Linked DNA regions of Homo sapiens. The protein of the gene in region 1 purifies or fractionates together with the protein of each later gene. This does not show direct contact. Each region holds a gene or a part of one and is shown on either strand. Other genes may lie near its edges.

Region 1 (3,819 bases):
CCACCCCTCTCTCCATCTCCCAGTCTGAGGAACATCCCCCTTGAGGGACTCCCCTGCAGCCCCCATGACCAGCTCCTCCTGCTTCACCCGCCTTGCTTCCCTCCACACAGTCATGTGGCCAGGTTCAGCAAGAAGCTAAGTCTAGGAACCAAAAGATGTCAGCTCCAGGGGTGGGGAATGAAGCCGTAAAGGCAGATGCTCACCTGCCCCCACATCTGCAACACACAAGAGTGACACACAGGAGTGACAGGTGTAACACACAGGTGTGATACAGGTGCAAGTGGCAGGTGATACAAGCTTATTCATCAGACAGCCAGGCACCAGGAAGCTGGGGGCAGGGGTGGGGATGGGCTGTGAACTGGAGCCCAGGGGCCTCCTCCAAATCCGTTCTGTTCAGTCTCGGGCCCTCCTTTGCTTCCTGGGTCCCTCCACAGATGCCTCTCTCCTTTGGACATTCAACTGCCATCTTCCCAACTCCTCTCTCTCTTGTCCCCCTTCCTCAGAGTCTCCTTCTCTTGCCTTCCCATCAGCCCCAAGCCCATCCCCAGCCCTCTGGGCCTCAGGCTCCCCCACTGCATAATGGGAATAACGAAAGTATCTACTGCCTTGGGGTGCTGTGGGAATTCCATAACCTTCTTGCGTGATGTCTGGTGTGCAGGGCTGACAGTGGCTTGAACCATGGAGGGACCAGATGTGATCAGGCCCCAGGCCTTCACCTGCCCTCATGTCAGTAACACACCCCACAGCCGCCACATCACCAAGCCCTGCCACAGACTGTTTCCTCCTCACTCAAGGATGCCTCACGTTTTCTTTCTCCATCTGAAATCACTAACCCATCTGCTCTTAAAAGCTGAGCTCAGCCTGGGCGCGGTGGCTCACACCTGTAATCCCAGCACTTTGGGAGGCCAAGGCGGGTGGATCACTTGAGGTCAGGAGTTCAAGACCAGCCTGACCAACATGGTGAAACCCCATCTCTACTAAAAATACAAAAACTAGCCAGGTGTGATGGCGGGTGCCTGTAATCCCAACTACTCGGGAGGCTGAGGCAGGAGAATCACTCGAACCCAGGTGGCGGAGGTTGCAGTGAGCCGAGATCGTGCCATTGCACTCCAGCCTGGGTGACAGAGCAAGACTGTCTCAAAAAATAAATTAAATTAAATTAAAATAAAGCTGAGCTCAAATCTGAGCCTGGGCAGAAGTCATCTTCCCTCCTTGCCCTGCCAGAATTCTCTGTGCTGGTGCCGCTATCACGGTATTCACTTAGAGTGTGCCTGGAGAGCTTGCTGTGGGTTGGGCTCTATTCAAAGCACTGCGCTAGTAGTGACTCATTTAATCCTCACAGAAACTCTTGTGAGGTCTGTACTGTAATCCTTTCACAGATGTGGTTTGGAGCACAGAGAAGTCAAGCAATTGTCCAAGGCCACACAGAACGGGACAAAGCCAGGACTTGAATCCCCACGGTTTGGCCCCAGGTCTTTGCTCTTCACTACTCAATACACTGCTTGTCCACTAGCAGAGGGGTGTGGGAATCGTAATGACAAAGCAGCCTGTTGAGCACCCACTCCAGGCACCATGCTGAGCACTGTGCGTGGTTAACGTGCCGGACCTCCCCACACCGAGTCGTTGGCCACATGTGGGTTTGCATCTGAGTCCAGCGCTTGCATCCAAGCCTCAGCGCTTGCATCCAAGCCTCAGCACTGGCCCACTGGCAGGAGCACGCTTTTGGTCCTCACTCCCTGGAGGGACTCATGCCCTCACCCTGTCCAGCACGAGTTTGGCTCCGGGGACTGTTGGATTGACTTTCCTAGGGATGTAGTTGGAGTCTGTAGCATCTTTCAGCTGCACCATTTAACCCAGTGTCTGCCATAACAAAAAATCACAGACTGGTGGTCTAAACAGCAGACAGTTCGTTTCGCACAGCTCTGAAGGCTAGAAGTCCAAGGCTGGCTGGTGGGTTTCCTTCTGAGGCTCTCTCCTAGGTCTGTCAGTCCCTCCTCCTCCTGTGTCCTCAAGTGGTTGTTCCTCTGCATGTCTGTGTCCTCATTTCTTCTTCTTAGGACACCAGTCATACAGGATTAGGGCCTACTCCTCTGACCTCATTTTACCTTAGTCACCTCTTTAAAGGCCTTGTCTCCAAATACAGCTGCATTCCAAGGTACTAGGGGTTAGGACATCAACTTGTGATTGTCAGCGGGATACAGTTCAGCCCATGACACCCAGGGTTTCAAACTCAGATGCCAACGGGCCTGACAGGAACGCATGTGAATGAACTGCGCTGGGAAAGACTTGGCCTCCTCATTCATTTGTTCTCACTTTTGAGGGAGACACAGGTAAAAATATCTCATTTTCCCCTTTACTATGTGAAATACAAGGACACGAACATTTGTTCATGGCCATATCCTAGCTTCCTAGAACAAGTGCCTGGCTCCGAGTAAGTGCTCAATAAATCTGCTGAGCAAGAGAATGCACAGAGCGGCCCTGGACATTGGGGAGTGGCAGGGATCATGGTGAGTCTTGGCCAGGGGGTCAGCAGGCACTTGGCTCCAGCCAACTTTTGTCCGATCTCCTGGAATCCAGACTTACATAAATCTGTTTTTCAATGCTAGCAACTAATTCACAAAAACTAAAACCATCCTGCAGATCTGTTTGCAGCCACTGCTGTCTGCCTAGGGTGCCCACCCTAGGCCAGCAGAGCAGGGCCTCCCCCAGCTCAGCCTGGGGGAGCTGGGCTCTTACCCGGGAGACAGGAAGCCTGGGGGCTGAGACTGGTGCACCCAGCCACTCAGGGCCCTACCACCCATGGTTGCCTCTGCAGGAAGGCGATGCACTGGGCGCCATGGAGAAGCTGTGCCGGCAGCTGACATACCACCTCAGCCCCCACTCCCAGTGGAGGCGGCACCGGGGGCTGGTGAAAAGGAAGCCACAGGCCTGGTGAGTTACACTCCCCCGGGCAGGTCTATGCCAGGCTGAGTGTGTGTTACAGGGCACCCCTCCCAGGGATGTAGGGAAGGGAAGGGCGGAGTCATGGGGGGTGGTCATAGAAGCTGCCTGAAGGAGGTAAGATGGAAGGAGGATTCCAGAGTGGGGAAACATCTAGAGGGGGACCCTGGTCTGGTGGGTGGGAGGAAGATGTGAGAAATTTCTAATTCCTGGTGTGCTAAAGTGGGCACTCCCAGATAAGCACAGTGTTTGGCTCATGCCTGTAATCCCAGCACTTTGGGAGGCTGAGGCAGGTGGATCACTTGAGGTCAGGAGTTCGAGACCAGCCTGACCAATGTGGCGAAACCCTGTAAAAATACAAAAATTAGCCAGGCGTGGTGGTGCACACCTGTAATCCTAGTTTCTCAGGAGGCTGAGGCAGGAGAATCACTTGAACTAGGGAGGTGGAGGTTGCAGTGAGCAGAGACAGCGCCACTGCACTCCAGCCTGAGCAACAAGCACTCCCTAGTAACTCCTCAGTTATCTCAGATGTCCCCAGGGGGACCCAGACCCCAGCCCTGTCCCTGGTCCATACAGCAACAAGGGGGTTCAGAGTCCCTTGAAGATTGGTAGGGGTTGAGGGGCATGTAGGACACAGAACCTGTGGGCTGTGATAACACCGTAGGAAGCAAGTAGAGGGGAGCCTGGAAGTAAGGCTTCCTGGAGAAGGAAGCACACCTGTCTTTTTGCAAATGATAGCTGAGTGGTGTGCCCTCACAAAGACTCTGCCAAGGCCTTGGTGCTGGTGCTAGCTCATCCCTGCAGGTCCCTGCAGGCTGGGGAAGGAAGGGCTGTCCCCCTCCCTCATGGAGAAGAAAGAACTCTGGTGCCTCCTTCTGT
Region 2 (3,819 bases), on another chromosome or scaffold:
TAGAGACGGGGTTTCACCGTGTTAGCCAGGATGGTCTCGATCTCCTGACCTTGTGATCCGCCCACCTCAGCCTCCCAAAGTGCTGGGATTACAGGCGTGAGCCACCATGCCCGGCCCTTTTCTTGTAAATTTAAGTTCCTTATAGATTCTAGATATTAGACCTTTGTCAGATGCATAGTTTGCAAATATTTTCTCTCATTCTGTAGGTGGTCTGTTTACTCTGTTGATAGTTTCTTTTGCTGTGCAGAAGCTCTTTAGTTTAATTAGGTCCCACTTGTCAGCTTTTGTTTTTGTTGCAATTGCTTTTTGGGACTTAGTCATAAATTCTTTGCCAAGGCTGATGTCCAGAATGGTATTTCCTCAGTTTTCTTCTGGGGTTTTTGGGCTTTTTATAGTTTTCAGTTTTACATTTAAGTCTTTTATCCATTTTGAGTTGATTTTTGTATATGGTGAAAGGAAGGGGTCCAGTTTCAATCTTCTGCATATGGCTAGCCAGTTATCCCAGCACCATTTATTGAATACGGAGTCCTTTTCCCATTGCTTGTTATTGTTGACTTTATTTAAGATCAGGTTGTTGCAAGCATGTGGCTTGATTTTTGGATTCTCTATCCTGTTACATTGGTCTGCATGCCTATTTTTGTACCAGTACCTGATGTTTTGGTTATTGTAGCCTTGCAGTATAGTTTGAAGTCAGGTAGTGTGATGCCTCTGGCTTTGTTTTTCTTGCTTAGGATTGCTTTGGTGATTCAAGTTTTTTGTTTGTTTGTTTGTTGTTGTTTTATATGGATTTCAAAATAGTTTTTTTTTCCTAACTCTGTGAAAAATGATGTTGGTAATTTGATAGCAATAGTATTGAATCTGTAAATTGCTTTGGGGAGTATGGCCATTTTAACAATATTGATTCTTCCTATGTATGAACATGGAATGTCTTTCCATTTCTTTGTGTTGTTTCTGATGCCTTTCAGCAGTGGTTTGTAATTCTCATTGTAGAGATGATTCACTTCCTTGGTTAGCTGTATTCCTGGATATTTCATTCTTTTTGTGGCTATTGTAAATGGGATTGTGTTTTTGATTTGGCTGTTAGCTTGATTGTTATTGGTATATAGACATGCTACTGATTTTTATACATTAAATTTGATAATGAAACTTTACTGAAGTTGTTTTGTCACTTCTAGAAGTCTTTTGGTGGAGTCTGTGGGGTTTCTAGGTATAGCATCATATCATTTGTGAAAAGAGACAGTTTGACATCCTCTCTTCCTGTTTGGATGCCTTTTATTTCTTTCTCTTGCCTGATTGCACTGGCTATAACTTCCAGTGCCGTGTTGGATAAGAGTGCTGAGACAGAGCATGCTTGCCTTGTCTTAGTTCTCAAGGGGAATGCTTACAGCTTTTGCCCATTCAGTACGATGTTGGCTATGGGTTTGTCATAGATGGCTTTTATTATGTTGCGGTATGTTCCTTCAATACCTACTTTTTTGAGAATTTTTACCATGAAGGGATGTTGAATTTTGTCGAATACATTTTCTGCATCTATTGAGATGATCATGTGGTTTTATTTTTTAGTTCTGTTTATGTGGTGAATTCTGTTTATTGATTTGTGTATGTTGAACCATCCTTGCATCCAGGAATAAAGCCTATATGATTCTGGTAAATTAACTTCTTGATGCTGCTGGATTTTGGTTTGCTAGCTTTGTTAAGGGTTTTTGCATCTATTTTCGTCAGGGATATTGGCCCGAAGTTTTCTTGTTTCATTGTGTCCCTGCCAGGTGTTGTATCATAATGATGCTAGCTTCATAGAATGAGTTAGGGAAGAGGCCCTCGTCCTTATTTAAAAATAATTTCAGTAGGATTTGTACTGGCTCTTTGTACATGAAGACCATTTTAGACATAATGTTGATGCTAGGGCTAGAGTGTCAGGATAAAAAGACGTGGATGACTAGTGGATGAGCAACCTGGGATTATTTTTAATTGTTTCACTCATAAAGTGTGAGATTGATATGCAACAATAAGACATCAATTATGTCATTTATTTGTGGAACAAACACAAATTGTGCAACTTTGTAGAGTGCTCTTTTTGTTCTGGCTTAACATCTATTCCATATGGTTTGCCAAAAGGTTCAGTGACTTTTTTTCACATTCTGATTTTATCCTGTGATTTTGTAAACTCTTCTTAGGGGTTCATGTGGGATGTGGCTGAGGAACTGAAAGCTATGTTGGTGTTTGCTGAACATCGATACTATGGAGAGTCTCTCCCCTTTGGTGACAACTCATTCAAGGTAAAGATACTTTTTACTTAAAAGTTACAAGCTTTTTCTTTTCAATTTAGAATAGTTTCTAAATTATATGCCCCACTGTGAGATAACTTAAATTTGAAATGCCTAAAAGCTCAATAGTTTATATTTAATAGTTTCTTTTTAGATACAATTTGAACAGACTGAGGGTTTTTTTTAAGCCATTTTATTATAATTCTTAATGTTAATCAGTTTTTAACTCTGTGTGCCTCAGAAAGTTAAATTTTACTCTGTGGCTGCAGAGACAGCACAGGGAGCTTTTTATTATTTCAAAAATATCAGTAAACAATTCCGCTTTATAAATCGTACACTTAAATTATTGAGCCTGCCACTGGAAAAAATATAATGAGCATAACAAATTTATCTGATAAGATGTTTTTAATAAAATAAAATCAATAAAATAAGGACAAATAAGCTGTATGATGCATTAAGGCCAACTGGCCCCTTGGATTCCCTTTCAGCCTTTCCTGTTCTCACAGGAGCTTTGGCCTTTGTCACAGACTCTACCTAATAAACCAGGACACTTTTTCTTCAACTGAGTCATTCATGTACTACTACACTTGTGACTTTGGCTATATTAATTTGCCACGTGTACTATTATTTACCTAATATTTTTCTTTAATCAGCTCACTTTTTAAACTTAGCATTATCTTAACCAAGGGCTCTGTGTACTGGTTATTCTTTACAAATTACACTAAAATGAAGCAATAAATGTTCCATTAAAAATGTTTGTGTGCTTCCTAATACCATCAGTGTATACATATGCTTTTGGGAACTCTCAGCTAGAAGGACTTGGGGCCAGTCCTTTACTAGGCTGCCTATTTTGAAAGGAGTTTTTATTTTTAAAAAGGATATTTTACTATCTCATATTATAAATAAATACAATAGTAAAAATAAGTAAAAATGTTGTGTTATAAATATAAAGTGGGATGATTTGCTGATATTTGTTGAGCTGTATGGGAAATTCTATTCTTTAGCTTGGTATTTTGCGTAAATATCTGATTAAGGGACTTGACAAGTCCTGAAACCACTGGGAAGCAGTTAGCTTGTTGTAGATAGAACATAACTTCCTCTCCTAGGTTTCTATAAATGATACTGTGTTAGCAAAATGGAGCCAGGGGCTCTTTTTGATATACTTCTTTCCCTTTGTGTGCTCACAGAATATGTCAGTAGCATGAAGGATATTATAGATATTATGCAAGGATTAGAAAAAAAATGCACTCAACTGTACAGAGTGCCATAAAAACTGGAAGTAAAGGATAGTGACAGACAGGGAGAGAGGAGGTAAGAAGGCATACATCTTGGAAGAGGGGGGAAAGCTAAAGGAGTAGGTGGCATATATAGGAGATAGGAAAGATGGGATCTATGTGATTCAGTAATATGCCAGATGATGGAAGAAATCAGGATGGTGAGACCAAAGCATGAAAGTCAAACAGGGTAGCCTAATAGAGGTATGTAGCTGTATTCGTTGTCTAGTAAAGATGTACTTCAAACCTTATGGCTTAAAACAGCAATAAACATCTATTAC

Evidence for each region.
Region 2: the proteins of LRRC75A (region 1) and PRCP fractionate together in Homo sapiens (co-fractionation; one large-scale study listed by BioGRID). This does not show direct contact.

The regions. Positions count from the first base shown.
Region 1 is NC_000017.11:16,446,957-16,450,775, reverse strand, and holds part of LRRC75A (leucine-rich repeat-containing protein 75A), read left to right. Parts: intron 1-2,815; coding exon 2,816-2,931; intron 2,932-3,744; coding exon of another isoform or gene 3,745-3,819.
Region 2 is NC_000011.10:82,851,634-82,855,452, reverse strand, and holds part of PRCP (lysosomal Pro-X carboxypeptidase isoform 1 preproprotein), read left to right. Parts: intron 1-2,174; coding exon 2,175-2,276; intron 2,277-3,819. UniProt on the Homo sapiens protein: Cleaves C-terminal amino acids linked to proline in peptides such as angiotensin II, III and des-Arg9-bradykinin. This cleavage occurs at acidic pH, but enzymatic activity is retained with some substrates at neutral pH.